3 separate regions of the Homo sapiens genome follow, and regions 1 and 3 are each linked to region 2. The links come from fine-mapping of genetic effects on gene expression. A gene starts in region 2. Each other region holds a variant in brackets. All regions are shown on one strand. Distances are from middle to middle.

Region 1 (11,076 bases), 40 kb after region 2:
ACCTCATGGGACAGAGAATTCTTCAGCAAAGCTTTGAAGAAAATAGTAGTTATTTGGAACAAGTGAGTGGATGGCATTTTAGACAGAGAGATGAGCATGTGCAAAAGCCAAGGGCAATCAAAAGCATGATATACTCTAGGAGTAAGAGTATGTGTACATCATAGAATGCAAAATACAGATGGCTTTGCCAGATACAAGATTGGAGAGATAAGTGCATCTGTATGCCAAGAAATATAAACTTTATCTTGAGAGTTTAAGAGGAGTCAATGAATAATTTTAGGCAAATTAGTGATAAGATGAAATTGTCTTTTTAAACATATTATTCCAATCCATTGTGAACAATTGTGGATAATGGATTGAAACCTGGGGATATTTCAATAAATGTAGAAATTATATAGCCTAGAGCTCAAGAGAAAGACTTAGGCTAAAGGCATTTGAAGCCAAGGTAATGGATATGGTCAACTGTGGAGAGTATGTGTGTGATGAGCAGTGAAGAACAGCAACATTTAAGGAAGTGGAAAAAGAAGAGAAGCTTGCAAACACAATGGCTAGAATGGCTTATATAGGACTAGGAGAGGTCAGTATCATGAAAACTAGGGAAGGATAAATTTTCATGGGAAAAAAAATAGTTTACAGAGATCAAATGACTTCTAAAGAATCAGACACATAATGTCTGTCAGTCAGGATCCTGGCAGGGAACAGGAGGCACACTTAAAAGAGGTGACTGAGAGGTTAAGTAAGGGACTATAAAACCAACAAAGGATGGTAAAGCACCCCCAGAACTGACACAAAGTCAGTATTACCAACACAGACCTGAACTGAAAAGAGCTATACTGTAGAAGAAGGACGCTGGACAGGTCCTGTGGTCCTAGGGAGAGGAATGTAAGCCACTGCTAAAGCAAGCCCAGCAGGGAGGAAGTCAGAGGAATAATTATCAAAAACCTCTTTCTTCTGTCACCCTCCTTTCTCCTTCTGGTACCTTCCACTGGCCAAACTCAGCCATAAATCAAAGAGCAAGGGATCATTCAGTCTCTTGGAGCAGAGTCAAGTAGAGAAATGTGGTAATGAATCTGGAAGGGCAAAGAGAGAATATCCAACATAGAAACAATGGGTCCACTGTATTTCACAACAAAAAAAGTTACTGGCAACTTTTGTCAGACCAATTTTAGTGGAGTGGTGGGGGCAGAAAATAAATTGCAATGAGTTGAAGAGAAATGGAGAGCAAAAAGGATAACAAGTTTAGTTTGACTGTGAAAGTTAGAGAGTGATAGGACAATAGCCAGAAGAGATGTATGGCCAATATATGGCTTTTCCCTTAAAAAAGATCTTATGATGTTTAAATATGAATATTAAAGTGATGAGCAACAGAATCGCAGTCTAGAAAGGTAGAGTAGGATACAAAAGTACTTATTCTGTGTTAGACACTGATTAGCATGGGTTACACATGTGAATGAGATATGGTCCTCTGCCTAGCAAGGGTTTGCAATTACATTATAATACTGTTTGTTGGTCTTTACAACATAATACACATGTAATACTGTATAATGGGGGTTGTTACAGAAATACTAGCAAAGTAATAAAGAAGTACAGCATTGAAGGTAGAAGGTAGTCTTAAAGAATGAGTTAAGATTTATCAGAGAAGCATGTGTTGGGTTTTAGGCATGTGCAGTGCTACAGTGTTGTGAAAGGCATAGACCCCTGAGGAAATAGAACTTATTCAGAGTGTCGGGACTACAGGATGTGTTGCTGATGGGACAGGGGATGATCTAGAAATGTAGATTGTGATCAGATGTAAAATGTTTGTATGTCTAGCAAGTGAGTGTGAACTTTATCCTGTAACCAGTGCGGAGCCAATGGAGGTTTTTCAGCAGGGAGTGATAGCATCCTCTTTCTTATTTTAGAAAGATAAATGGTGCAAATGTTGGAGAATAGAGAGGATAGAGAGAAATTGGAGGCAAGGAGACCAGAGAGGAAATTATTGGAATAACCCAAGGGATAGATCCTTACTGCCTAAACCAGAACAGTACTATTTTGTATAGTGAAGAAAGGATGGCTCTGATAATAAAAGGTTTTTAGTAGTGAGAGGATGAGAGAGAAGAAAGAATGAAGATAATGTGCTTTCACAGTGCAGAGAAGTAGCATAAAGAAATAAGAGTTTAAGGATGTTGATCAATTACAAGTATAAGAATTGAAGTATAGGCTGGGCATAGTGGCCCACACCTGTAATTTCAGTGCTTTGGGAGGCTGAGGAAGGAGAATCAATTAAGGCCAGGAGTTCAAGACCAACCTGGACAATAGAGCAAGACCCCATCTCTACACACACACAAAAAATGTAAAAATTAGCTGGGCATGCTGGCACACACCTGTAGCTCTAGCTACTCGAGGAGATGAGGTAGAAGGATCACTTGAGCCCAGGAGTTGGAGCCACAGTGAGCTATGATCACACCACTGCACTCCAGCCTAGGTAACAAGAGTGAAATCCTGTCTCAAAAGAAAAAGGAGAAGGAGAAGGAAAAAGAAAAGAACAAGAAGATGAGGAAGAGGAGGAGAAAGAAGAGCAACAAGAATTGGAGAATAGACAGAATAGAAGCAGAAAGAAAAGATATTTTATTAAAAGAATAGATGAGTTTGGTATAGGACAAAGGAAATGAAAAAAAGCAAAAAAATAAAAAGCGACTGATATTTTGAGTCTTGCTGATTAAGGGAATGTGATTAACTTTTTAAAATTCCCTTTGAGCCTTCTGAATTGAGGGGATAAATATCCATGTAGAAATGTGTAAAAATAATTTAACCAAAGATGAGGTGAGAGGCCAAGGCTCTAGAAATAGATTTGAAAGTTATGATTGTATATATTGTTGCTTAATTTTCATGTGTACTTTTGTCCCCACAACCAGATTGTAATATTCTAAAGGACAGTGTCTCAGTCTTACATATGCAGGTATTCCCTATAGTGCTTAATTCAGTACTCATGTTGGAGGTATTCAATAAATACCTTGAATGGAAAAATATCACTGACATGAGTGAACACTTCTCAAAGTGTATAAAAGTGGCCCGAAGTTAGATAGATGAGGAGGGTATTTATCTGAGACAAACACTGGGAGGAAATTTCAACCAGAAGGAATATTAGCATGTGAGAAGGCATAGAATCATAAAAGGCATGTTGTGTTAAGGGAGCTACAAGTAGCACAATTTGGCTAATGTGTACAGTGAGAAGAGAGTTGTGGGCAGATAGGTTGGAAAAGAAGCCGTGAGTTAGATCATGAAGAGCCTCGGTAAGGAGTTTGTTTTAAAAACAATTACTGAAAGATTCGAAGCAAACACAATATTTATAGGTTGGAAATATTGCCAGAATGGAAAAGAAAAGGAGAACACTGAAAGCAGTAAAATCAGGTAAAATGGCACTTTAGTTGATGAAAACAATGACTTCTTGAAAGCTATTTAGAAGGTACAATCAATATGCTTTGGTAACTGTTTAAGACCTGGAGTGATTGGGAAGAATCAAAGATGACTCCAGAGATTAGATTTGGTCAGTGAAAAAGTGGTAAAACCATTTATCAAAATGAGGACTACGAGGTTAAGAGGGTAGATCTCATGTTAAGTGTTCTTACCTTAGTAAAAAACAAAAATGATGAATATGAGGGAAGAATAGATAGGTTTAGGGGAGGAAGTAATTGGAAGGAGAATGACATGTTTGAGTTTGAGACACTTATGAGATATTCAAGAGCCAATTTCTTATAGTAAGAAATCTGGGCCATGAATGTAGACATGACAGTCATCAATGAATGAATAAAGTTAAAGTCATGGCAGTATCTGCCAGTGGTATTCTTAGATTCAGCTAAACAATCAAACTCCCTTAACTGTACCAGGCTGTTTGGCTTCAATTAGAGACCAGAAAACAGTGCATGCCAACTAGGTAACATTCTTCAATAGGAGGAATCCTTATAGAAGGCCACAAGACAGTTGAGGGGCTAGTTTTTGCTATGTTTCTACCCTCTACAAGTGACAGCTCAGCTTTAAGGCTTATAATGCTTACATTATCACAATGGGTAGGCATCTACCTATTCTGGATAAGACGCCCCATGTTCTAAACAGGAACAAATGTTTTTGTAATGGCTCCATATGAATTTCTCCCATGGAAGAGATATGTCCAGTAATAAGAATTATCATACTCGAGGAAACTCAAAACTATAGCTTTCTAGCAGATACCTGTGGTTTCTTTGCAGTCCTCTTAGTCCAGATGTGGTTTACCAATGAAGGGCCATTTTTACCATAATCAATGTGCCTTGTAACACAGCTTAAATCCTACTAATTATCCAGAGAAATAGACTTAGAAAGTTAACTCAAAGTTGAATTGGTCCATAGAGAAGGAGAAGATTTTGTTAACCCTTTACTCACACACTAATATAGATAAGGTCACATAGACAGTATAAGTAAGATTACAAAGAAAGTATGGATATAGATAAGAAAAAAAGAAAGCCACATAACTCAAAAATTTTAGCATATAAAGGACAGGCAAAGAAAGAGGAGCTCAAGAAAGAGCCTGAGAAGGAACAACCAGAGAAGTAAGAAAATAAATGGGAAATGTGATGATGCGGAAACCAAGGGAATTAAAATCAAGAAAGATAGTGGTCAAGAAATACCTATTTTTGCAATTACTAGGTAATTAGTTAACCACAAGCAAAGTAGTACATTGAAGTGATAGAGGTGGAAGCCAGATAACAGTTGGGTTAAGAGACAAGTGGAAGTTGTGGTAGTAATATAATTTACTACCA[T/C]ATTATATGTGTCAATATAATTTTAGAGTACTCTATAGGAAAGCTTGTCTGAAAAGAGATGACAAACAATTAGAGGGAGTCCCGGGATTTATTTAGACTAATTTTAAAAATTCTAAACCAGTTAATGTAGAAGCAATGTACATTTTCTATACAGGGCTTCTTCACTTTCAGGTTTTTTTTTTCTATCAGTTGTTATACTTTATGTTAATTGAATTATTTTCCTTTTTTGTTTGTTTGTTTGTTTGTTTGTTTTGAGACAGTCTCACTCTGTCTCCAGGCTGGAGTGCAGTGGTGCAATCTCGGCTCACTGCAACCTCCACCTCCCGGGTTCAAGCAATTCTCCTGCCTCAGCCTCCCAAGTAGCTGGGATTACAGGAACGTACCACCACACCCAGCTAATTTTTGTATTTTTAGTAGAGACTGGGTTTCACCATTTTGGCCAGGAGGGTCTCGATTTCTTGACCTCGTGATCCACCCGCCTCGGCCTCCCAAAGTGCTGGGAATACAGGCATGAGCCACCATGCCCAGACAGATATTTTCAATTTTTAAAAACTCTTGTAGAATGAAGAAAAGCATAGGCGTTTTTCTTGTTCAACAGTGTGCAGTTGCTTGAAGTCTTAGAAGAGTTAAACTGTCAGAACAACTTTGCTTTCCCTGCAGCAAACATGTATATATGATTACAGCAAGTCTATGCTAGGATCATTAAATAACACACATCATCTTTGTTTTATAGAAATGATCTTCATTGTGCATTAGAATACCTAGTTAGTTTTCATGTTATTTTAACATACTATTTTGACTTTGACTTCATGATATCTATATCTATCTGTGTGTGTATGTTTATATATACATATATATATCACATAAATTCTATGTATTTGGAAAACAACAAGTGTATACAATGTATAGTGAGAACACTATGATTTACTTATTAAAAAGTTAGACTTCTCTCCACAGATAACCAATAATCTTAAGTAATGTATATGAAAGTGCTTTGTAAAATTTGAAATTCTATATAAATATGAGATATTGGAATATTAAGAATCAGGTGTTAGGTTAATGGACATATTTTTATTTATTGAAAATGTAATTAAGCTGAAACCATTGATAAACTACTATCACATTAAAAATACATTTTCAGTGGAATGTAAACCTAAATGTGTTAAGAAATAAAGTAATGCCAAGAAATAAGGGGCTTACAAAGAAGCAGAGGTATATCAGTAAGATTATTCTAATGTGGAAAATGTTAGTGGTAGATAAAAATAAGATGTTGGCAATCTGATCATGTAAAAGAGAAAAAAAATATATGATAAAGTGCAGGGCATTTAGTGCTTAAGCCCTAAGATAAATCAGAGAATATATTCTCATGAACATAGAAGCTGCTTCAGCAAATAGTGAGATATAAGAATATTAATAAGGGAGTAAAGTTAAAAATATAAGAAGTAATTAGTCTTCTGTCACCATCAAATCCTTATCATAAAGCTAATATGCTTGACCATTCTGGAAGGTGTAAAGTAAAAGGGGATATATTGTCTCCCATATTAAATGGTTAAACTTTAATAAAATGATACTGCTAGATATCTATCTCCAATATCCATGTATCTGTAGTGTGGCAGTTGATCCTGAACTACGTGCTACACTGAGAAATCTGGCCAGAGCTGAGCAGTTATCTATTGACCTCTATTTGCCCTTTGAACTCATGCTTTAAACCAGATTGTCCAGCCCATATTCCTGTATCTGTGTGAGTAAAAGGCTTCTGAGAAGTGAAAATACTCTAAGAGCAAGAAATAAGAAATGGCGAACCTGAATAAGCTATGTACGTTTTTCAGTACATGTGAGAGGACACTGGTTGATCAAAGGATGATCATACATGGACCCTATGGACAAGAAAATAACATGAATCAAAAGCCTAGAGGCAGCCCAATAAACCAAAAAAAATAATCTTAATAAGGCTGTCTCTCTGCCTGCCTGTCCAAATGCTTTTCCACCTGTGCAGATCCATTCCTGCCTGTCCAGCTGTCTCCACACCTGACCCCTACTTACCTGATCAACTGTCTCCTCCACGGGTCCCATTGCGGTCCCACCACTTCCAAATTCTTCCTAGCTACCCAACTGTTTCTCCTGCCCGCCAGCCCCATATACTGCCTATCCATCCATCTGTACCCTCTACTCTTCCAAAGACCTTTGCACCAGTCCCATTACTGCCTTACCCAATTAAATATCATCCTTGTCCTCCAACCCCGGCTACTTCCAGCATTTCTAGCAGTTTCCCTCGTCTACCAGCACCAATTCCTTCTTGCCCACCTGGCCATCCACCCCACGCACCCCAGAGTTCTCCAATCATTCCTGACCCTGAGTCACAGCACAAGTTATTTTACAAAACTTTCAGACCCAAACATTTCCTTCCAGCACAGCATTCTACTGCAGCCACTCTAATGCCTACCCTTGTTCGTCGTTCCCTTCCAGCTCCACTGGTTGTTTCCCCAACCCCTTTGGAACCTCTCCCTGTTTTGAAGCCTTCCTGTTTATCCAGTCACCCCCCTTATCCACCAGTCCCCACTCTTTCTTATGTCACTCCGTTGCCTGCACATCCTGCTAGCTTGGATCCTTTTCAGTCAGTCCAGCAATCTGTTCCACAAGCCACAGCATTGTCAAATCAGCCCGAGGCCTTTGCAGATCATCCACCAGCCTCAGTTCTCTCCCTTGCATCTCCCTGTCATTCTCCATCTTCTTCTTTGCCTTCATCTCCTTCTACTTCCACATCCTTTTCTTCAGCCTGTATACTGTTTTCTTCCTCCTCATCTATTCTTTCCTCTTCTTCGACTTCCTGTTCTACTTCTCCATCCTTACCTCCTTCATCTATCCCTCTTTTTTCCTCTCCTTTGCATTCATCTTCCTCTCCAGGTTTGCCTCCAACTTATTTAGCTTTTCCCTCTCCAGTTTCTCCTGTTTCTTCTTCCTTTATGATTTCCTCTTCCTTTCCCCCTATTCTTCACTCTCCTTCTGTTTCTACCTCCCCATCTCCTTTTATTCCTATCCACCCCTTCAATCCTCCTCATTGGGGGAAGAAAGTAGAGAAGAGAAGAGAAGAAAGTGGAGTAGAGAAGAAAGGAATAGAGAAGAAAGTTGAGACACGACAACTTTAAAGGTAAATAAATTGAGTTTATTAGATATTTTGTAGATATAGCAATATTTTGTTTGGGAAGGGCGACTGAAGGGGAAGGATTATCTAAGAGTAGGAAAGTGTAAAAGGAAGAGACAGAAACATACTCTCAATGTTCAGGAACTTGTATTAAATACCTTCTTGCTCTCCCTGATTAAATGTGTGATCACAAAGGGATAGTTAATCTAGTAATCATTGACCTTGACTACTCCAGTCTGTCCAAATAAAGATATATATATGGATATTGGAGATAGGGAATAGGTATATATCACATGTGGCCACTATCACCTTCCAAAACATTTTTATTCTCATTAAAGTGGGAATAATTTAATTGAATTAGGAATAAATGCTCTTTGGATTCACACTGCCAGCCCCAGTGCAGCAGCATTCAGCTATATGGTAGTCTCATCCCCATCCTATCCTCCCCCAAAACTCTTCTTTAGTTCTTTGCTTTCACTTTGTATATGTGCTGAAATCTAACATGCTATAGATTTGCAGAAGATACAAAATTCTAATAGAAAATGATGTCATGCACTGAAAATGTTTGGATGGCCCTTTAGCATAGTAAAGGTAGACTCTATATTAAGGGTACGCTTCTGTGGCATAAAAACCATGCTTATATTCCTGTTTATATTCCTGAAATAACTGAAAATAAGTGAGTACTTGGCCTCCATTGAGGACGATCCAAGTTCCCAATGCTAGTTAAATAGGGAGGAAATTCCTGCTGACCCTGACAAGCAATTTTTATATTTTCTATCTGCTTGAATCTTCAACCAACACTATTAGGGTTACAGTTTTTTCCTAACCTACTAGCCATGACATCAACTCAGAAAGAAGGGTAATGCAGTATATTATTATCCATATAGGAATGCTCTTAAAGACCTGAGGACTGACTCTACACAGGAATTACTTCTACCCTTATCCCAGATTATAGAGGGATAGGTTATAATAATCAAAGCCATGAATTACTGGGCATTCCTATATGAAGGTGGAGTTCTTTACTGGTACTTTAGTCTCACAACTACTTTTATTCTACTATTGATTGCCTTAAATTCTCATTCTAACATGTCTATATATTTCTCCAATATCCTTATATGTGGTTATCTGGACAAACACACACGTATTACACCTAATGTGTCATGTATATACATATAGAAAGAAGTTAACTTTATTTAAATGTACTAAGCACTTTTTATGTCTGGTTCACAGAGCTATAGATTCTGCCTTGCCTTCCGCATTATCAAAAAATGATCACAAGCATCAGAAACAACTCTTATCCAAAATCAATTGTGAGAAAGAAATGAATGAAAACATGAGGGCAACCTTGGCTACTAGCAAAAATGTGTTCCAGCTTAAACTGGAGGAAACTCAGAAACTCCTCGAAGATCAACATCTAAGCAATTTGCAAGTATGAAACTATAAAAATGTTGTTAATATTTTAATTCCTTGCACTAATTTTGCTCCACTTTTGCAGTGTTCTCCACTAAAGAAATATCTTACTAGCTGAGAGCAGGCCATGAAAGACAGTGTGGATGAATCAGCACAAATTCATCATAGAAACTATAGAAATAATTTTTTAGTTTTTTCCTTACCTTTGAAAGTACAATGTAATGTATTATTGTTAGAGATTGTATTATAAAAAGCAACCAGAAAATTATAATACATGTAGATATTAGTTTCTTAATGGAAATATGGCAGAATTTGCTAGAAATGATGTTTGTAATCTATCCCTAGTAGGGCATATACTTTATTTTTTCCACAACTGAATACAGATATCAGCTGATTTTCCTACATGTCCATCCATGTACTTTATTTTTCATTAATAATTATGCACATTTATGAGATTTTTAATAAACCAATATAAGATTAAATTCATAACATTGGCCTGATTCATCCAACAATTAATCAACAGTGGCAAGGCTAAGAAAGCAAAACAGAAGATTCCTGGCAGCTATCGTGATGTGCCTTCCTACCATAAACAACTATAATTATGAACAAAATAAATAAAACAACTGCTTGTAGACATGGGTCAGAGGCAGTGCAGGATGTGATCTTGAAAAGGGGAAAGAAATGATGTAAGCCTTATAACCTAGGCTTTCTACGTAGTTATGTTGCCTGAATAAGCCTTAAAAAGATCCACTAGTAACCCAAGCTACCTATTAAACAAAAAAACTTAACACTTTTTTCTTTTTTCCTTTTTTTTTCTTTCTTTTTTTTGAGATGGAGTCTCACTCTGTCACCAGGCTGGAGTACAGTGGTGCAATCTCGGCTCACTGCAACCTCCGCCTCCCAGGTTCAAGCAGTTCTCCTGCCTCACCTCCCGAGTAGCTGGGACTACAGGTGCCCGCCACCACGCCCAGCTAATTTTTGTACTTTTAGTAGAGACGAGGTTTTACCATGTTGGCCAGATGGTCTCCATCTCTTGACCCCATGATCCGCCCGCCTCAGCCTCCCAAAATGCTGGGATTACAGGCATGAGCCACCATGCCTGGCCAACACTTTCTTAAAGAAGACTATGAAATCTAAATACTCAATAACATAATGCTCACAATGTCAGCATTCAATCAAAACTTACTAGACATGTGAAGAATCAGGAATATATGACGCATAACCAGGAGAAGAGTAGTCAATATAATCAGACAGAAATAACAGAGATGATGGAATTAACCAACAAGGAATTTTAACGTATTTTTACAAATATTTTCAAGGAATTAAAGTAAAAATGTACATAAGAAAGACAATTGAAAAAAGAAATAAACAGACCTTCTAGTTCTGAAAAACATACTATCAGAAATGAAAAATTGACTGGATGGACTTAACATTGCAGTCATTGCAGAACAAAAGATTAGTGGACTTGAAAACATAGCAATAGAAATTATCCAAGCTGAAGCTTTGGGAGAAAAAGGCTGGAAAAAAATGAACAGTTTGTTAGTGACCTGTGAGACCATATAAAGCCATCAACACATTTAATTAAAAATAAAATTTAAATAAAATTTCACAAAGTAGGAATGGAAATGTTTAAAGAAACCATCGCTGGAAATGTTTCAAATTTGATGAAAATTATAAATCCACAGACTCAAGAAGCCCAACAAACTCCAAGAAGGATAAGTGTATGCACACACACATACCACAGAAAGGCAC
Region 2 (11,076 bases):
CCTCCTTTGTATTATGGAAATTGTTGTATGGATTAAAAGATATGTAACATTGCGGACAATATTGATGACTTTTATAATTTATATTAATAGGCAAATACACATATTGTAATCTTAAATTTCTAGTTGAAGTCTTACAAAATTCAAGTGAAAATGGCAGAACTTCAGCAGAAGTTGGCAGAACTTTAAATCAGCCAGATGTTAAAATTCTTTGTTCTTTCACATCTTGCCCAGAGACCAATTCAGGAAATTCTTATTTGAGCAAGAAAATACTTCAGTGGAAGATGGAAAAAAAAAAATAGCCTCAGCCAAGACAAAAGTGAAAGCACAAAAAAATTGTCCATCACAGCTGCCACATGGTTATAATACTTGTTAAATTAAATAAGCAGGAGGCCATTGCCTGAGGCTGTCTCTGTACTTTGAGTTCCTCTGTAGCAAACTGCAGCCTGACTTAGGAGTATATTTTTTGTAACAAATAGTGGAGTTTCAGCCAATCATAGGCAGCCAACTAATCAGAGTATACCCAAATAAGATAAACACCTAGCTGTAGGCAATCACATGATTCCTCTACTTTGTTTCTGTGTCCAACAAAATCTTGCTGCTCATGCTGCTGGGTGGAGCTCTCTGAACTTCTTGTTCTGGGTGCTGCCCAATTCGTAAATCATTCTTTGCTCAAATAAATTCTGTTTATTTTCTGTTCTAAAGATACTAAAAATAATATTCAGGCTGGGCGCGGTGGCTCACGCCTGTAATCCCAGCACTTTGGGAGGCTGAGGCGGGCGGATTACCTGAGGTTGGGAGTTTGAGGCCAGCCTGACCAACAAGGAGAAACCCTGTCTCTACTAAAAATACAAAATTAGCTGGGCGTGGTGGCGCATGCCTGTAATCCCAGCTACTCAGGAGCCTGAGGCAGGAGGATTGCTTGAACCCGGGAGGTAGAGGTTGTGGTGAGCCGAGATCATGCCATTGCACTCCAGCCTGAACAACAAGAGCAAAACTCCGTCTCAAAAAAAAAAAAAAATATATATATATATATATATATTCAAATTAGATAAGTTATGTGAATATGCTTTATAACCATAAAGTGGTTATTATTAGTTTCCTTTGTAAATAAAACATCAACGATTTATGAGACCACATTAATGAAATTGCATGTCTAATAGACATCTCACATTTAACATGTTTGAAGCCTAACTCGTATTCCTTATTCCACCCCTACCTATTCTTTCCCATCTTAGTAATGGCAACACACTTTATCCAATTGTTTGAGCCAAAAATCTGAGTCACATTTGACTTTTTTTCTCTCGCTTACTGCAACCATCCACCAACACATCTTATTGGCTCAAGGTTCAAACTGTAAACATTTCTTGCCACCTCCACTGCTACCATCCTAGTCCAAGTCTGCCATCTCTGGTAACCTTAAAACTGTCCTTATTGTTTCTGGTCTTATCTCCTACAACCTAGTTTTCCCCACAACAACTAGAGGGTCTCTTTAAAGGTTCAATAAAATTGTGTTACTCTTCTAATCAAAACTCTCAAATGGATTTCCCTCCATTGAAAGTTGGATTTTACATTAAGTCCTTGCATACAATACAAGTCGCCACTAAATCTGGGCCATGTACCTCTACAATCTCATATGTTAGCACACTTCCCTTATTATATGGTTTGGACCTGCATCCCTACCCAAATCTTTTTTTTTTTTTTTTTTTTTTTTTTTTTTTTTTTTTTTTTTTTTTTGAGACAGAGCCTTGCTCTGTCACCCAGGCTGGAATGCAATTGCACAATCTCGGCTCACTGCAACCTCTGCCTCCCAGTTTCAATCGATTCTCCTTCCTCCGCCTCCCAAGTAGCAGGGATTACAGGCGCTTGCCACCACGCCCAGTTAATTTTTGTGTTTTTAGTAGAGATGGGGTTTCACCATGTTGGCCAGGCTGGTCTCAAACTCCTGACTTCAGGTGATCCACCTGTCTTGGCCTCCCAAAGTGCTGGGATTACAGGCGTGAGCCACCATGCCAGGCCTCCCCGCCCAAATCTTACGTCAAACTGTAATCCCCAATGTTGGAGGTAGGGCCTGATGGAAGGTGATTGGATCATGGGGGCAGATATCCCCACTGATGCTGTTCTCACAATAGTAAGTGAGTTCTCATGAGATCCGGTCATTTTAAAAGTGTGTGGCACCTCCCCTCTCTCTTTCAGTCCTGCTCCTGCCATGTAAGATGCCTGCTCCCACTTTTCCTTCTACCATGAGTAAAAAGCTCCCTAAAGCCTCCCCAGAAGCAGATGCTGCCATGCTTTCTGTACAGCCTGCAGAACCATGAGCCAATAAAACCTCTTTTCTTTATAAATTACCGACTCTCAGGTGTTTCTTTATAGCAGTGCGAGAACTGCCTAATACACCCTACCTCACTCTATTCCAGCAACAGTGGTCTTGTGCTGTTCTTTGAGCACAACAGTATGATTCTGTCCTCACAGTCTTCTGTACTCACAGACCCCTGTGCCCTTATTCTTCATCCAGATATTTGAATGGCAACCTCTTTCCTTCATTCAGACCTCTGTCCTAATTTCCCTTCCTTTGGGGCCTTTCCTGAGCACCCTCTCACAGATAGAACTGACATTGGTCTCTATCCCCCTTCACTATCCCACTTTCCATGTAGCACTTTTCACTACCCTAATATGTTCTAGTGGGGAAGAAAAATAAATATAAGCTTCACGAACATAAGGACTTTGAAGTTTTATTCACTGTATCCCTAGCACCTGGAAAGTGCTTGGCACATAGTAGGTGCTCAATATATATTTCCTTAGCAAAAGAAGGAATTGTTTTATGGTTTTAAAGTGTGAAAGAATATAACATTGTATTTAATTCAGATGCCCCTTCTGATAAAAAATAGGGATTTTAGGGTAACATTCTTCTTTACTGCTTGAATCACAACTGCCTTTCCTGTCAAGAGATGAAGTTGATAAAATCCTCAAATTTTTTATTATCCAAATATCTAATCCTAAAGCCTTTTTCCATAAATAACACTGACAAAAAAGTCATGACAAAATCAAGCATCATGATGTTCAGAGCCCCTTGGGCCCTGCCTTTCTATAAGAATCTAGGATTCTACAACTTAAATAGAATGTGGAAAACCCACTTAATATTTTGAAGAAATAAAGAAAGAATTTAAAGGTCGAAAAAACCTATGATTAAAAAAACTGGCAACATTGTTTGAAATTTCTTTTCTTCTTGGTTGTTACCGTAAAACAATATTTGAATGAAGAATAATTATATAAGTCTAAACTGAAATAAAATCCTAAGCCCCCACTGACTGAATAGACCCCCTCTTGGCCAAGGGGACCCTGGGAAAACCTTAAAACTGAGTTCCCAGCCATAATGGGATGGAAGGTCAGCTATGCCTCATTATATCCTCTTCCTGTTGTAGTTTGGACACAATTGACCAGGATTAACGTTAAAGTAGAGATCATTAGACTGACGGAACAGACACTTGGTGGCAGTAAGATATCAAATTACAAATAGGACCTAAGGCCATGCCAGGCAAGGGTTAAGTCATGCACTCCTACACTTAAAGAATAAACTATGTTTAACTTCCACAAGTTTTCTGTTTTTCTCTAGCAGCTAAACAAACACTGGCCTTGAGATAAGCAATAGTAAAACAATCGTAGCTCACCACCAGACACTGACTAACTGACCCTCTGTTCCATAAGCCATAACTACAGCTTTGATTGGACAACAGACTGATTTCAATAACTTTCTCCTGATGAGAACATCACCAACCATGAGGTGGTTCTGGCCAGTTTAAGAGGACTGCTCACTTGAGTGCCTTTGTGTCCTAAAAAAAATTTAGACATAATAGGGCCTAATTGTAATGCAATTAAATGTTAAGTCTCCAGCCCAAAATGAACATGGGTCATATGTTACTGTTTGTTCAATATACATGCATCAGAACTACCTTCATAAATATTCATAGCTCCTCCTATATCCTATAAATTATGTATGTTTAGCCAACTTTTCAGCATAAATCTCCTACCTCAACATCCCTCCTTCAAAGTACCTGCCTCTTTAGGCTTCAGTTGGAGGCACACTCCCAGCTTGTGGGATGGCCCTCCTTTCAGGCTGTAACCCTTTCCTCTCCTTTCTAGATTCATAAATTACGTGTTTTTTTAAGTTAACGTAAGAAAGGATTTATAGGCAATTGAGAAACCAAATTATGCTTCTTAGTGCTAATATACCAAGCCACAAAGCAGTGAGATGCCTAGGACTTACGAGATCGCAAACTAATAATATAGCAAAAGCTGGACTTCTGGAAAGCTAACCATGCCTAAATATTCCAAATAGCAACTCTAATATTCTCATATTCATCTGTACTTTGCACTGCCCTACTTTACTCAGATCACCCATGGGGAGACAAACGTGTGATGACAGCAGTGGGAATAGAATCAAGGCCATTGCCTGTGGCTAGGCCAATTAAAAACTTGCCAAGATAGCCAAGTGTCCAGTTGTATACATTTAGCTTTTCATGTCAGAATTGTATATTTTATCCTGTTGGTATGCTTCTGAAGGAGAGTTCATGTGTTTTGTGTCTTAAATCGAAACTGGATTTGTTGTGGCACTTTAAAATCTGTCGCCAGTGTACATTCCAATTTGAGTCATTGCAACCAAGTTTGCAAAGATTGTTTTAAACAGTTTCAACTGGAAAAGTTTATTATTTGAAATCTTAAAATGAACAAATTAATTCACAAAGGCAGAGACATTTGAATGGTGGGTGAATAATCTTTATTTGGTCTGTACTTTCTGCTTCCAATCTGGGAATTTTTCCAAGAAAACACTGACTGAAATACAGTCAGAATTTATATATGCATTTACATTAGGCTCCAACAATAAGATTCAGCCTTTTTCAAAACTGTCACTTGCATAGCCAATAAACTAGTGTCTCAAAAATCCATTTAATTTTCCATACTTCCCAAAACCATTTCAATGCGATGATCTCTTTTGGCATATCTTCCCAAGAGATTGCTAGTTTTGCTGTGATGGTCCATTTCCAGAATCTGGCAGCAATGCGAGAACCATTAGGAGGCTTTGAAATGTAGACCTTCTAAGTAGGGCAAAGGCAAGGAAGACGACTGCAGAGGGAATGCCAGAAGCATTACCGAGTGGATGAGAGAATGCAGGGAAGGAAAATTTCCACTTCACAAAGACATTTTAAAGAGACGGTGTTTGGGGATGATGATGCCACAGAAAGACTCACAACTCAAAATCTCACAACAGGATTCAGTAGTTTAACAAATTCAACTCCAAATTGTCCCCCAGACAATCACTGCAGACTCCTCCCGGTGGCAATTGCCTGTATCTGAGGATTTTACATCTGTCTTTCGTCACTGTCGGTACTGCCACAAAAACACTCTCATAAAAAGGGAGGCAGAACTGCATCAGGCTCTAAAACAACACTCAGCTCACCCCTCGCGCAACAACCCGGGTCCCTAGGGATGCTTGGGTTGCCACCCGCCGCTCGAAGCTGGAGGGGCCGCCGGAGCCTGCGATTGGCTGCTTCGGGCACATCGTCCCGCCCCGACCTGTAGCTCCTCCCAGGTTTCCGTTGTCAAGGACGCGCCGTCGGTTGTTGTCAAGATGGCGGCTGCAGGGTTGCTGCCGCCCCATCTGCTATTGCCCGGCGAGGTCGCCGCTGCCTCAGCTGCCATCGCCGCTACAGGCACCAGTGCCGCTGCGCGGGAGCTAGGGCTGTCGAGGCCAACCCTTCCGCGCCCGTGACGCGGGGCCTGAGAGACGGAGTGTAGGGAGGGGCCGAGCAGGAGGAGGAGGAAGCCGGAGCTGCCATGAGGGAGGTTCTGGGGGCGAGCAGACAGGCGGCGCTGAAGTGAAGGATGCTGGCGGGGAGGCCCGGAACCCGGAGCGCGGTCGGGGAACTGGGCACTGAATCATCGGACAACCTCGACAGAGCCCCCCTCGGCCCTCGGGAGAGCGGCGGGCATCACCGACCTGGCTCTTACCTGTATCCTTCCCAGCCTGTGGCTGCCAGGGTAGCGATGTTGAAAACGGGGCCCATCTTTTTCCAATTAGATTCCCATTACCTTTGACGCAGGGTGATCAAAACTAGCAAGTCATCTTAGTGCAGATATTTCCTTTAGCAACTGTCGTGTCTCACCTTAGACCTGAAATTATACCATTTTATCTAATTCTGTGGCTGCTTCCCCCCATCACCCTGTTATCCTACTCCCATTCTTCAACTTTGTAAAATTTTTGTGAATTTTAAAACACATCAACTGTGTATTCTGTGGGGATATTTTTATGCCATTATGTTCTTTACTTACATATTAACTACTTCCTGATTTATCGTACTACTTGGAGAGAGAAATTACACAAATAAGTAAAATGTTTTGCTATCCTAAAGAGTCCGTTTTAACAGTTATCCTAACACAGCCCTAAATGCATTTACCAGAGCTGCTAAAGGCTACACAGTTTGGTAAGTTGTTTTGTTTTCCATCTCTGCCCAGTCTGTTGTCAGAGCGACAGAAAAGAGGAAATGAGAAACAGGGGACCTGGACGCTTTACAATCTGGATTAACTCTGACTTTTCTCGAAGAGTTGGTTAAGCCTACCTTTGATGTTGCTGTTGGTTGCATTGTAGAAAATGGAAAGAGGAGAAGTATTTTGTTATCAAAATCTGTAAATCAGGTTTATTCCTTTAGAGACTGTTGTGATGATTAGGATTTAACCTTTGTATTCCCAAAGGACTTGGTTGGCAATGATGGTGTTGTGTAATCATCTTCAGTCTTGTCAGAGATGAGTGTCTTCTCTTTCCAAGTTAACTCTGTTTTCTTATCCCCTTTGTCTCCAATTTCTAGGATGTTCTTTGTACTCTGTTACAATTTTAGCAGCAAGTCAACAATTTGTATTGAGTGCCTGCTCTTTGGCTGACTCTGTTCTAGGTTCTAGGGATACAAATCTAGTGAGGAAGACAAATGTGTATAGAGCTTCACTAAAAGTAAAATATCTCTTCTCCGATCATGCTTTCTGCAATCTTCCATCCCTTCAGTCTTTTCTTTCTTTGGGCAGGTTCTCAAAATGGTAGCTTGCAATAGCTGCTTCTAGTTCCTCTCATCTATTCATTATTAACCCCATTCAGTTTGGCTTTTGCCCTTGCTGCTCCCCAAAATTGCCCTCTTAAAGGTTACTCTGAAATGAACACAATCATTTTCTGTATGGATTTAATTCTGGCCTCTTGACATTATATTTTCTTGGACACAACTGCTATTACACGACCCTGATTTATCTCTAAATCAGAAAATAGGGAAGTATTGTAAATGGCTCATTGAGAGTGTATTTTCTGTTATTTTCATTAATAAAATGGTTGTAGGCCTCATTTTTTAAATTTTATGTGGTATAAATTTTTGATACAAATGCCAAAGAAAATATTCATAAATAGAATCCAGCAATACTTTGAATGAACACAACCAAATAGACTCTATTCCAGAATTAGAATGACATTTCCTATAAAGAAATACAACACTAAAAAAGATCCTTAAAGGCTAAATATATAGTTAAAATTAGGCAAGTTATAAATGAACATTTTAATAGATGACCAATAGACTTTGATAAAATCCAACAATGTGTGTGTGTGTGTGTGTGTGTGTGTGTGTGTGTGTGTGTGTGTGTGCTGGTTTATATATATTTTTGCTAGTTTGCATATGTGTGTATATATATGTTTAGATAATATATATTTAAATTGGAACAGAGGAATTATTTTTGAACATAATAAAGATTATAACACTAAATCAAGAACATTATGTTTGCTAGCTGGAAAAACACTAAAGTACCTTTTATATAAGTTTAATTGGAATGTTCTTTGTGTCTATAATGTTTCCCATTGGATACCTAGCACAGAGTAGGTGCTCAAATTTACATGACTAAATGAAAAAAAGGAAAGAAAGCAAATGAAAGGACCACAGCCTTAAAATAAGCAAGTATGTGGTAACATTTACATTTCAATTTCAAATATGAACATGATACTCAGAGGCCATCTGGCTTTCTGTTGAAGACATTTTCTCACTGGAGTCAGAATTTTCTGACTCTAAAGGTTATAAAACAACAAAACCTTATGAAGTTTATTTAATTAAAATTAGCTAAAGTTCTGTCATTTCAATCTCTTTTTCTCTTTTGAGAGTTCAAATAGAAATGGAATTTAAAAAAAAAAAAAAAAGGAAGGTCTCTCATGTCCCCTTATACCTGCCTTTTTTTCCTCATAAATATCTCTACCCTTCAACCCTCCCATTTTATCCTAGCACCCACCTTGCCTCTCCTTTCCTCTCCAGTTTATACCCTATTCTTAACTATTTGAACTTTCTCTCACCAACATCTTTGGCTATTTGTACCCCAATCATTCTGCCTCAGCCACTCAATAACTACTATAGTCCTGCTCCTTTACTCCTTCATGCGAATAATAAAAATGCTGTCAAAGAAAAATCACAAAACAATACAGATTGTACCACTAAAGATTGATGGTTTCCAGCTTCACCTAAACAGGAACAGGGTTCTTTCTTTTTCCTATGAATGCCTCTGCCAGGTCTCTGTCACCTTCCATCACACTCGATAGACTGTCTTACCACTTGATAAGACTTGGATGCCCTGACAGGTCTGTTCCAACAAACAGCACAAACACACACACTCCCACCCACCTGTCTTTTTTTCCCCCCAGGCTCACTGATGGGATCTTACTTTTACTATAGAAAGTGAAGTGAACCCATTCAGCTGGGCCCAGTGGCTCACATCTGTAATCCTAGCACTTTGGGAGGCCGAGGTAGGCAGATTGCTTGAGTCCAGGAGTTCGAAACCAGCCTGGGCAACGTGGTGAAACCATATCTCTACAAAAAATACAAAAATTAGCTGTGTGTTGTGGTGCATGCTTGTAGTACCATCTACTTAAGAGGCTGAGGCAGGAAGATTGCTTGAGACTGCGAGGTGGAGGTTGCAGTGAGCCGAGATTATGCCACTGCACTCCAGCCTAGGCAACAGAGTGAGACCCTGTCTATAAATAAATAAATAAATTGTATTTTGCTAATACATACATAATAAAACATAGTTTTGTACCTTGTGTTTCTAAAAGGTACTGCCCCATGCTCATGAGATTTTGAAACTTAGGTACATAATACATTTCTAATGGCATATACTTTTGTATAACCCCCTTAGGAGCCAAGTTTTCTATAATGCACTAAAAGATATAAAAATGCATATGCCTTTTGTCCTCATATCTACCCCAGAGAATTTTCTCCAAGGGAATAATTCAGGAGGTTTTTATTAAATCATTACTATATTCTAAGAACCATGCCAGGCGTGAGAGTTACAGAAATGTAGAGAAGACACTTATCATGTACTCATGAAGGTGTCATCAAGTCATCTAGTGGAGGTTAGAAAAGGCTTCAAGGTAGAACGAACTGCTTGAGATGGCCCTGAAAGGATGAGTAGAGTTAGCCAAGCATGTGCCAAGAGATAATGGTATGATACATCACGGGTTGTTCTGTTTATAATTATCTTAGTGCGTCTGGACATAGGATTCATACAGGGAAATGTTAAGAAATAAAGTTGAAAAAACAAACTATATTATAGAATGGTTTATATATAGGTCCAAGAACTTTGGAATTTTTCATGAAGGTGATAGGGAGCTTTTGGAGAACAACAAAGAGAAACACAATCAGATTTGCATTTAGCTGACTTTGTGTAGGTTCAAATAGAGGTTTAGAGTAAGAAGAATTAGAGGAGCACTGTAGTCGTCCAAGCAAGGGATTTAGAGTACCTGAGTTAAGGGAGAGGAAGAAGGTACAGTAGAGGAAAAATCGAATCAACATAGCTTTAATAGATTTGGGGAAAAAATGGGTTATATAATACATAGTTATTTGTGATGGCAACATTTTAAACAACCTAACTGGATAAAAGACTAAGTTGGGAGAGGAGAAGTGAGGATAGAGTGGGGTAGAATAAGCTATGCTTTAAAATCACATGTTACAATACATATTATTCTTGGTTTTGTTTTTTTAATGTTAAGTATATAAAAATTCCCTTCTTTTGGACAGGTATTTAGCAGTGTTTTTTTTATGGAACTCCTACCTTTACCATACAGCTTGTATAAAAAAACAAAATTTAACCAGCCATCTAATTTTTTTAAACTTGAATACCATATTTGAAATGATACAAAAGCAGCAGGATTCTTTATATTAATAATTAATAATTCAGCAGGAAACATACTATACTATTATACTTATATATAAAGAAAGTAGAAAATCATTTGGTTAAATTGAAGACTATATAGTTGTCAGAACATTACAAACATTACATTTGTGATTTTCTTTATGCTGTCGTGATGAGACTTCAAACATGTCAAACAGAGAACAGAACTGTCTCCTCCTTGCTTCTCACTTAAGCCAAAGCATCTTCCTCCCCTCAACCTCATGTTGGCCCTGTGCACCCTGAAAGGAAGTTGCACTTTTCTTTACTGCCGAGTTGTCACTTTTAATACCTAGACATCTTGTTGAAGTCTGGCTCTTGTTAAAATATTCTATCAGAGAAAAACAGTTTTTCTGTGCTAGCAAAGAACCAAATTTTCTTCCCTTTTGGTTTGATTTTTATAAATCCTTTAAAAGAAATCTTTAAGTAAAAATATGTTTGTGAGTGTGTTTGGGTCTTTGTCTTGAAGTAGTGTAAAATTTTATTTAAAATGAAGGTAAAATGAATTATGGCCTATGGTATAAAGATGGTTAAATAGCAACACAAAAGAAAACAAATAAGCCCCCATCAGCAAAGGTCTAAACAACAAAATGTTCAAATAAACCTGTTATTCTGAAATATGTAATAATAGAGTTTCTTTATAATATTGATGCTGAAGCACTATAGGATCCTGAAATTAACATGTTGAATTAACAAATTATGTACCGCATAGTTTATTATTGAGTGTATTTCTAGTATTCTGTTTTACCATTAATAATCAATTTATGAGATTTTTACAATCTTGATTAAATGCAGCCTTTAAAGAGAATTTTGGACCTCCATCTTAGCGTAAAAAGTTTTTAAACA
Region 3 (11,076 bases), 96 kb after region 2:
TATATATATATATATATGTCACTTGATATGGATCATACAGAGCAATGTTCTTGCCCACAGAAGTTAATAATTTAGACAGTCTGTTTCAAAGCCACATTCCAAGCCCAATATCAATGATACTGAAGAAGAGAAATTTCCATCTCATCAAAGTAGTAAAAGATCCTCAAGGTGCTTGATACTGCAGCAATATTTCCTATTGCCTCTGCAGTGGCTGTAAAGATTACGAACTCTGTGGCTAGATGGGTGGATTCGTTTGTTCTTGCACTGCTATAAGGAAATACCTGAAACTGGGTAATTTATAAAGAAAAAAGGTTTAACTGGCTCGTGTTTCCACAGGCTGCACAGGAAGCATGATGCTCCCATCTGCTCAGCTTCTGGGGAGGCCTCAGGGAACTTTCAATCATGGCAGAAGGCAAAGGGGAAGCAGGCACATCTTTCGTGGTAGGAGCAGGAGCAGGAGAGAGAGGACAAAGGTGCCACACACTTTTAAACAACCAGATGTCATGACAACTCACTATCGTGAAGACAGCGCCAATGGAGGGTGGTGTTAAACCATGAGAAACTGCCTCCGTGATCCAATCACCTCCCCCTAGGCCCCACCTCCAGCACTGGGGATTACAATTCAACATGAGATGTGGGTGGGGACACAGAGCCAAACCCTATCAATGGGGAAACAGTGTGGGAGACTTTTTGAGGTCCATACAGTTGTCCCTGGGCTGCAGCATCCCACAGGGGAGGCTTCACCACCAAGGTTTTTACAGTCACAAGCACTCATTTGCTTATGGTATATGTCTTATCAAAATGACAAAAATACTCCTTTTTATTGCCACAGTAGAAGAAAAAAAACCATTAAGAGCTGATTATTTGAAATGGAAAAATGTCTACATGCCAAGAAAAAAAAGATTTTATCTTGCAATAAAGACCTTTTCCTATAACAACAGCTAATGTTTGTTGAAAGCTTTTAATATGCCAAGTCTTGTGCAAAGCTCTTTATATGCAGGATTTCATCTAATCCTCCTAGGAACCCCATGAAGCATTATTATTATGTCCATATTCAAATAAGAGAATTGAGGTGTTGCAAGGTTAAGTAATGTGCCCAAAGTTGCAAAGGTGGGGAAAGATATATCCAGGAATCAAACCAAAGTCTATCTGTCTTTAGAACTGACTTAACCTCTACCATGTACAACCAGCTTTTTTTTTGGAGACAGAGTCTCGCTCTGTCATCCAGGCTGGAGTGCAGGGGCACCTTCTCGGCTCACTGCAACCTCCACCGCCCAAGTTCAAGTGATTCTCCTGCCTCAGCCTTCCGAGTAGCTGGAATTACAGGCACCCATCACCATGTCTGGCTAATTTTTGTATTTTTAGTAGAGACGGGGTTTCACTACGTTGGCCAGGCTGGTCTCAAACTCCTCACCTCAAGTGATCCACCCACCTCGGCCTCCCAAAGAGCTAGGATTACAGGCATGAGCCACTGCGCCCAGCCAAGGTTTCTTTTCAGAGAAGAATTTTCCAGATGATTATGAGTATAGGCTTATTTACAAGATTTAGAATTAGCTAAAAATATTTTTTCAACTTTTTACAAACATGACTAAGGTGAACATATAACGAAACCTTTTATAAACAAATGCATATACCAATTGGGTGGAGAATTGTTTAATTCGCCACATGAGCACTTAGAACATACTGAAACTTTAAATCTTTTAAGCTTTTATAGCCTACCAGTGGAATGTACTAGGAACTCTGTCTTTTTTTTTTATTTTTTTGAGACAGCATTTCACTCTTGTCTCCCAGGCTGGAGTGCAATGCTGCGATCTTGGCTCACTGCAACCTCCACCTGCCGGTTTCAAGCAATTCTCCTGCCTCAGCCTCCATAGTAGCTAGGATTACAGGCATTCACCACCACACCTGGCTAATTTTATATTTTTAGTAGAGATGGGGTTTCACCATGTTGGCCAGGCCGGTCTCGAACTCCTGTCCTCAGGTGATCTGTCTGCCTTGGCCTCCCTAAGTGCTGGGATTACAGGTGTGAGCCACCGCACCCGGCTGGCACCCTGTCTTCTTAATACCAAAGGTGTCAGCATCATTAGCTGCTAGCCAAATGGCAAACAAAACCACTTTACCTACTTGGCCAAGTAAATATTGCGAAAGTAAGGAAGGGATGGAAAAATAAAGGTTATTTAGTCTTAGCTATTGTATTCCTAAAGTAAATATAATCTTGCAAGTCATCATGGGGAAAATAACTAGGGAAACCTAAATTATCCTCCAAAATTCCCTTTGCCTTTCATATTCAATAAAGCCTAACCCTCCCTCACCATCAATAAGTCAGTCTGTCTTTGGTTTGCTTTGGCGGTTGAATAGCTGCTACGTTAGTGGCATATACAAAATGAGAGGGTAGAAGATCAATAGAGAGATTATGTAAGAAAGAAATTCATTACAGTATCTCTTTATAGCACTTCTATTTGCTTATTGACTAAATATTTATGTTAAGCACTGTCTATGTGCCAGGCACTATACCCCAGCTACAGAAAAAAAAAAAAAAAAAAAATGAATGATATATTCCCTGCCCTCCAGTAGTTCAGTTTCCTGGGGGAATGAGACATAAGTAATCAACTGTAATAGGGCTGAACTTGACCCTAAAGGAGTCAAGTGGAGAAAGCACATATTTTTTTCTGTCTGGGAAAGTCAGGATATTGGGGCTTAAAGTATAAGTTGCGGTTCACCAGGCAGAGAGGGACACAAAAAATATTCCAGGAAGACAGAACAGTATGTTCAAGGTGACTACAAGTAGCTCAGCATGATTGCAGTTCAGGTTGCAAGTTGGGGAGTGGCAGGATATGAGGCTGGAAAGGCAAACATAAGCCCAAATGACATGCATAACTGCCTTGTAATATCACACTTACCTTCTCACTGCATTCTAGAACATGTCTTATTCATCAATGTCTCCCTAACTCAATGTGTGCCATGTAATAGGTCCTCAAATAACAGTACATTAACAGCCCGACAATCTTTTTAAATGTAATTTTATGTCTATCATAATCAGTTGTAAAACTAGGTCAACTTGTATTAAGCTGTTAGTTGGCCTTTTTTAAAACTAATGTAATGACTGCCCTCTAGTGGTTATAAAACAATAAACTTTTCTATCAGTCAATGCCAGTAGCTTTCACTCTTTCCAGTAAGAAAACTTAACTAAGGCATGCCCTTTGATATTTTTATATTCTATTGTATTTTATTTTAAAAAAATGTTGGTTACAAGGAATAATATATCTTCACCCACTAATAGCTTGCCATCCAGTTTGACAACGAGTGTTCTCTGAGAACACTTGGTTTAATATATTAACTATGTCATATAGACTATGGTTTATGATTTAATTTATTCTGAAAGTAGATATGATTTAACGTTTTCTGAAATAGTAGGCTGCTTAAGTTTAACAATACAGATAATATAAATAATACAAATAAAATTCCCCATACACTAATACTAATCATACCTACCAAATATATTATCTTTTCTATTAGTAACTTACATACATTTCACATGTATTACCTCAAAAAAGTCTCTACTACAAATCTGTGTTTACTTTCATTCTTCAGAGTTGCAGACTGAATTTCCTCAGTCATAACAAGACTTACAATAAAGTTATGAAATATAGCTTATTGCTATAATAGGAAAAATAAGAAAACATTCTATAAGGTGATAAACAGGGAAACTGTTAAATTATGGTACATTTATATGATGACTATTACACAGCCATTAAAATTATATTTTCAAAGAATATTTAATGAATTAAAGAAATAACAATGATTCGTTGCTAAGTGGAAAGAGAGGGACCTGGAGCTATACTTAGAGTGTCTCAACCATGGGAGGAAATAAACACATCAAGAAAGAAAAGCCAGGAAATTAATGCAATCAAATATCAGGAGTGGTTTCTCTGCAATCAGATTCCAGGTGATTTTCATTTTTTCTTAATACTTTTTTTTTATATTTTTCACACTATCTACATTGTGCATGTGTAACTTCAGAGAAGTCCAAAAAAATTAAAAGCAAATGAAATTGTCTCCTTTGATAAAAGTGTACACATGAAAGAGAAAGAATGCCCCTCAAAGTCTGCCTTTCCAGATGTCCTGTGTAGCTGAATTACAGACCCTGTAACAGATTTTCTATACTGGAGGATGAGTTTGCTTGTCACAAAAGCATCTTCCAGGGTATTCCTTATCTACAAATATTCGTAAAAGGAGGCCTGGACCTTCAGAATCAGAAGATGAGTAGGTATAATTTTGTGTTATCTCCTGTATATAAGTATCAGTCAAAACAAACTCTCCAAGAACTTTATCTTGGAAAGGTTACATCAGTCTGAGTTTTGTTCCATTGGATGGCCCTTTTTTTTTTTAATTTTTTTAAAGAGATGGGGTCTTGCCATGTTGCCCAGGCTAGTCTCAAACTCCTGGGCTCAAGCAATCTTCCTGCCATCCAGGCCAGGCACAGTGGCACTTTTGACTGCAAAGTATGAAAGCACTAAGAGTATTGCTCTACAGAATGGTAAATATGATATGCAATTTTAAATTAATTTATATTAAAAGGTTGCCAAAGTTATCAATGTTGCTTATATTTCCTAAAATGGATTATGACCTAAACAATATTTATGAACACCTAAAACTCATTAAAAATCTCTTTTCCATTTTTAATATTTTATCCTCATATTTTATTGTATATGCAGTCGTTGTCATAATGCCTTTCTTCCAGAGATTTTTTACAATGCCTTTTTTTAAAGATTAAGTAGAAAACTTTCCAAGAATTTCAAATAATTTTAAAGAAAGAAATTTATACATCAGCCACTCCATCTAACTCTTCATATTAAAGATGAAATCCAAGTACTTTTTAAATGACATTAGTTAAAGCTTCCAATGTCCACGGAAATAAAACTAGTATTTTGCCTTTTTGGTTTCTCCAGCCCAGCAAAGAAAGAATGAAAAAAATATTTGCAGAAAGTGAGAACTTTGTAAGTTACTGCATTGATCAGAAATCAATTCAAAGCTATGTAATACGTATTCACTCAATACAACTTTACTGAGTACCTCTTAAATCATCTCTATGCTTGGGACCAGGGACTCCAATAGAGATCAAATACAATCCCACTAATCAAAACATTTAGCCTATGAGATCTTAAAGACCGGCAAACAGGCAATTACAGCAAAGTGTGAGTGAACACAGATTATAATGAGATTGCCTAGAAGGGCCATCTAATCCAGGACTTGGGCTGTGAAGGCAGGCTTTCTGGAAAATGTGACTACCAAAGTGAGGGCTGAAGGATGGGTTAGACAAGCAAGGATGGAAGAGGATGTAATTTCAGGCATTAGAAACAGCATGTGTCAAACTCAGCCTGCTTTGCCCATACTTCATAAATCTCCAAATCAAACAGGGCTTTCAGGCAAGAGAGCAATTGGAAGCATTATTATACCTCTGCTCTTTCCTGAAGCCCTACTTAAATCACAAGGATTAAAAAGGACAGATAGCAGCCAGGCACGGTGGGTCATGCCTGTAATCTCAGCACTTTGGGAGGCTGAGGCAGACGGATCACCTGAAGTCAGGAGTTTGAGACCAGCCTGGCCAACCTAGTGAAACCCCGTCTCTACTGAAAATACAAAAAAATTATCCAGGCGTGGTGTCAGGCACCTGTAATCCCAGCTACTCGGGAGGCTGAGGCAGGAGATTCGGTTGGACCCGGAAGGCAGAGGTTGCAGTGAGCCGAGATCGCGCCACTGCACGACAGCCTGGGCGACAGAGTGAGACTCTGTCTCAAAAAAACAGAGAAAGAGATACCCTAGATGTCTCAATTGTTGTAAGTAATAATAAAATAAAAGGAGGGAGTACAAGACAAAGAGAAAACAAGGGAAGACAGCGCCAAAACTTGGAAGGTTAGAAAGCAGGTGATGAAGTGGTAACTGATTTAGATAATCAAAGAAAGCTAAAACCTATGCTGGCAGTAGGGGAAGCCTAAAGCAAGCCAGTCTTTCCTGCAAAACCAGAAAGGCCCAGGTTTGAAAGTCATCCGGTAGTTCTGCAAACTGGGGGTAAAGGTAAGACTGAAACAGTAATGATTAGTTGGAAGTCTGTTAGACAAACAGTTAAACCCCAGATCCAAATGTCATGCAAGACAGCTGGACCACTCTCCTTCTTTTGCCAAAGCAGGAACATTTAACTTTAAAACTATGAATAAACGAGAATTTCTTTAACCCATTAGAAGGCATTTAGTGGTTGCTGAGGGCTTGCTGCTGAGATAGTCCCGTCAGGACCTGAGGAGTCTTTCCCCAGCTGACAGGAATGTCGGCGGCTGACAGCTCTCAGCTGAGTCACTCTCCAGGCATTTCCCGCAGGCCAAGAGACTCCTCACACGGGGCCACACCCAGTCCCTGAGGGCCGCCCTTATCCAATGCCTGGTTGATGTGGGGCATGAAGTCCTGGCCCCTTTGCCTCAAGGTAGGTCCGTTTTGAAAGGCACGACTGCACACCAGCAAGAAACGACCAAAAAAAAAAATTTGTAACTTTTTAAAAGATACCATTTACAAAAATAACCAAATTTAAAATGCCAACTCTGAATCTTTAAAAAGATATGCAAGCCTTTTCTGGAAAAAAGATTAAAATATTGAAAGACATTTTAAAAGATTTAAATAAATGGATGTATATACCATATCCTTGGATTTGAAAACTCAATATCATGTCAGTTCCTCCCATTGATATTAAACATTCAATGCAATTCCAACTAAAACACTCAAGGCCTGTTTGTGGAATTTGACAAGATGATCTAAAAATTTATGTGAAAGAGGAAAGAACAAGAATAGCCCAGATACACCTGTGTCCGAAGACTAACGTGGAGGTACTTGCCCTATCAAATAACAAGACTTTTTGTTTTTCTCTCCTTTTTTTGACACAGAATCTTGCTCTGTC[A/G]CCCACGCTGGAGTGCAGTGGCACTATCTCAGCTCACTGCAACCTCCACCTCCCGGGTTCGAGTGATTTTCCTGCCTCAGCCACCCAAGTAGCTGGGATTATAGGCATGCACCACCACGCCAGGCTAATTTTTGTATTTTTAGTGGAAACAGCATTTTGCCATGTTGGCCAGGCTGGTCTCAAACTTCTGGCCTCAAGTGATCCATCAACCTCAGCCTCCCAAAGTGTTGGGATTACAGGCGTGAGCCATGGCACCCAGCAAAAGCTCTTATAATTAAGATAATGTGGTACTGGCACAAGATACATATAAAAATCAATAAAGTACATATTAAAAATCAAAATACATATAAAAATAAATAAAAACTCTTGCAAATAAACCTGATTTACAGCAAAGCAGGCGTTGTATCAAGCTACAATAGCTATGGTAGTTATGAACACGCACCGCTCAGATTTCCTTTCAAGAGATAACCTGCGCAAAAGAGACTGTTGGCTGACAGCCCCTACCTGCTGTACCTCCTGCATCCACCATGGTGTTCACATCAATGCCTTTCTCCCCGCAGACTGTTCCCAGTGACTGAACATTGTGGAAGACTGTGGAAAATTGTGGGTGTCCCAGAAACAGACAATTCTTAACCAGTGAGGGACTTCTCTGGTGGATAGTCTTTACATATGGGTGCCTCAATAGGCCTGGGCAAGACTTCCTTTTTCAGAGCTACTTCTTCCTTCCCATGCTCTTTTCACATGTGTCAGACACACATCATAACATCATAACCTTTATCCTTCACAGGTGTTTCTTCCCAATAAATCTCATACACCTCTAATTCCATCTTGAGATCTGCTTTTCAGAGGAACTTAACTGACATAGTTGGTACCAGGAACAGTCCAAGAAAGCAGGCTAAAAGGTGGAGATTGGGGATGGAATCACTGAATGGCAAGGAAAACCCCATGCTGAGTGGAGAGTGGGTCACAGATTGTCCCTGGCTCAAGGTAGTGGCTCGACTGCCACTATTTCACAGGTGATGACCTGGGGAAACATTCCCTGAGAAAAACAGGCTTGCCAATTCAAGAATCCAGGCATTTAAAAGATGCAGTGGGACTAACACCTGCAAAGACAGTAGCTAGTTATTACTAAGTTGAATTGAAAACCTTCAGAGTGATGAGAAACTGAGAGCAGTTAACAACTAAAGGTTAAGTATGAGAGCCAGGATGCACTTGCGGTGGTATTGCTTACAAAGAGATCCTTATCACCCTGCAGTGGAAGAGAGCTCAGCTGCGGGGCAATCATAGGACTTAGAATAAGGAGCTGCAGAGGCATTTATCAGGCAAGGCAGATCTGTCACAAAAAGACCAGAGCCCTGAAACATCTGGGTGGGTAGCCCCAAGAATTCCTGGTCACTGGATTCCCAAATCGGTGCCTATCTCTCCTACCATTAGGAGACTGCAGGAACCAACAAGATCTCAGTGATGCTGCTGCCTCTTCCTGCAGATCCTTCTTGCAGATCCTTCAGACCTAGAACTTCCCCAGCTGTATTGGGCTGGGATTTAACACTAGTTATCTGCTTGTCAGCAGACGGAGGGTAACTGTGAGGGGTTTCTGGCTGCCTTGTGGTGGAAAGGCCTCAGTAGGGTCTTCTCAGGTGGAGTAAATGCTAGCTCTTAACAAGGAGTAGTGAGAGAGGGGCACTGATATCACGAAGAACTTCAGTGGTGGCTCTGCTCTGTAGGCCAGGACTGAAGGTATGAGAGGAGATCAAGCCTCCTCTATTACAGAGCTGGGCTCCTTAATTGTAGCGAGCATGATGAGCCCCCAGAGTAAGAGAGACCAGGTAACTGCCAGAAGCCAGGGGCCACAGTTACTCTAAAAACCAGCAAGGTTAAAGAAGCAGCAGAGGGGGCTTGGTTGTCAGGCAGTTGTAGAAATGATGAATATAATTTGGAGTTTCTAGGGTCCAAACAAGTTGGCACCCTACAAGGGTACTACTTAACATCTACAATCAAAACAAGTAAAGAATGGAGGAGTAGGTAGCTTAGGACAGTGGTCCCAATAAAAATTATAATATCTTGCTCAGTTTCCAGACCTGAGCCTTTTTATTTAAGACAGAGTCTTGCTCTGTCGCCCAGGCTGGAGTGCAGTGGCACGATCTCGGCTCACCACAACCTCCACCTCCTGGGTTCAAGTGATTCTCCTGCCTCAGCCTCCTAAGTACCTGGGATTACGGGCACATGCCACCATGCCCGGCTACTTTTTTATATTTTTGATAGACACAAGGTTTCACCATGTTGGCCAGGCTGGTATCAAACTCCTGACCTCAAGTGATTCGCCCACCTCGGCCTCCCAAAGTGCTGGGATTACAGGCATGAGCCACCGCACCCGGCCTGAGCCAATTTTTTTTTTTTTTTTTTGAGACGGAGTCTCACTCTGTCGCCCAGGCTGGAGTGCAGTGGGCGCCATCTCAGCTCACTGCAAGCTCCGCCTCCCGGGTTCACGCCATTCTCTCGCCTCAGCGCCCCCGGAGTAGCTGGGACTACAGGCGCCCGCCACAGCGCCCGGCTAATTTTTTGTATTTTTAGTAGAGACGGGGTTTCACCGTGTTAGCCAGGATGGTCTCGATCTCCTGACCTCGTGATCCACCCGCCTCGGCCTCCTAAAGTGCTGGGATTACAGGCGTGAGCCACTGCGCCCGGCCCCTATTTTTAAACTGAAACCCATTAAATGATAAGATGGCCGGGTCTCCAGGAAGAAGGACCCTGCAATTCCCCCAAGAAATATATACTGCAAAGATTCCCTCAGTCGTTGTCTTAAGGGACCTATGGTCATTTCTGTGGGAATACACTGAGGAAAGGGGAATAACCAAATATTTGAGGACTACTGAAGCGGGATCTTGGGCCATGATGTTCTTAAGCTACTAGACGATACGATCTACTAAAACAAGGGAGTAAACCAAGAAAACAAAGATAAGAAATCTGAGAGGCAAGAGAGCTGCAGTGGCCATGAGAATGCACTTTGCAGCCCTCCAGCTACGGAGCATAACTGATCAAAGACCTTAGCTGAGGTGCTCTGAAACCCATCCCAGCCCAGAGGATAGGTTCTCAAAGGATGCAGAGCAACAAGGAAAAGGCAAAACACAAACAGAAATCCCCAGGGTGACGGTAAAGGAAAAATTCAGCTGTGCGGCAAGCCTACAAAGCAACCAGTCAAGACAAGTACAGAAGGAATGGCCACAAGAAGATAAAATTGATAGGAAATCTACTAAGTTTGAGTTACTAAGAGGATGTGTGCAATCTGGAAGAGAAAGAATTAGTGATAAATTACGTAGAAAACTAAACAGAAAAATCATAATTTGTATGACAACCAAAACAAAAATGTGAACAAGGAATAATAAATATTCATAGTATACTAGATGACAACAGCAAAAATTATATTTAGTCATAATAATGCAAATGTTCAATATTGATCTAACAAAAATTAATAAGAATTTTAGTAGGCTGGGAGAATGGGAAGTGTGAGGGAGACAGGTAGAGAATATACTAAGAGGTTAACAGGTAATATATGAAACAAATACCAAGAATGACAGGATAAGCATGTTATTTAGAAATATGGAAGTAAATACTATAAGAAAAAGCTAAAAGAATATTATCTAGGGAGAAGAAATGGAGAGGGATACTGCTAATTATTCCATAATAATAAGACTTGTATTTTATGTTTAAGCTATCTGTAACTTTGATAAACTTTAAATTCAAAATAATTATTGAGCAATACATTTTTGGTTTTTTTGTTTTGTTTTTTTAAATAGAGATGGGGGTCTTGCTATGTTGCTTAGGCTGGTCTTGAACTTCTGTCCTCAAGGAATCCTCCCATCTCAGCCTCCCATAGTGCTAGATTACAAGAATGAGCTACCACACTGGGCCAAAAAACAATTAAAATGCTTTTTTTAAAGCAATGAAATTGCAATAATTTGACAATAATATGTGAATATACAGAGTTTTAAGAAATTAATAAAAGTCAAACACCACAATTAAACAAATGATTCATAAAATAACTAAAAATGTGAATAACAATGTATTGTTGACATTTTATCTCGGATTTTAAAAAATGAAAGTTAAAAAAAAGGAGACCATTTCTAGATACACAC

Direction of the effects. Positions count from the first base shown, and alleles are read on the strand shown. Sizes are in standard deviations (SD) of each study's normalised expression. Not every link is listed here.
For the expression in prefrontal cortex of the gene that starts at base 5,603 in region 2, allele A in region 3 goes with a lower level than allele G (small effect, 0.23 SD a copy in ROSMAP).

What was found.
Region 1: its variant is fine-mapped to the expression of CEP126 in whole blood (TOPMed, PIP 0.92).
Region 3: its variant is fine-mapped to the expression of CEP126 in prefrontal cortex (ROSMAP, PIP 0.95).

The regions. Positions count from the first base shown.
Region 1 is chr11:101,949,024-101,960,099 of GRCh38, forward strand. CEP126 (centrosomal protein 126) reads left to right here. Exons shown (of 11, transcript NM_020802.4): 5 at 9,145-9,343. It also overlaps the pseudogene LOC100418997. Among named protein-coding and RNA genes, the nearest start is that of ANGPTL5, 38 kb to the left of the region's middle. The variant T/C (reference allele first, on the strand shown) is at 4,773.
Region 2 is chr11:101,909,408-101,920,483 of GRCh38, forward strand. CEP126 (centrosomal protein 126) reads left to right here and starts at 5,603. Exons shown (of 11, transcript NM_020802.4): 1 at 5,603-6,005. The coding sequence starts at 5,878. It overlaps ANGPTL5 (angiopoietin like 5), which reads right to left and starts at 7,115. Exons shown (of 9, transcript NM_178127.5): 1 at 6,612-7,115. RefSeq lists an enhancer at 5,522-5,621.
Region 3 is chr11:102,004,925-102,016,000 of GRCh38, forward strand. No RefSeq gene overlaps it. Among named protein-coding and RNA genes, the nearest start is that of CFAP300, 37 kb to the right of the region's middle. RefSeq lists enhancers at 5,087-5,713, 5,999-7,198. The variant A/G (reference allele first, on the strand shown) is at 6,944.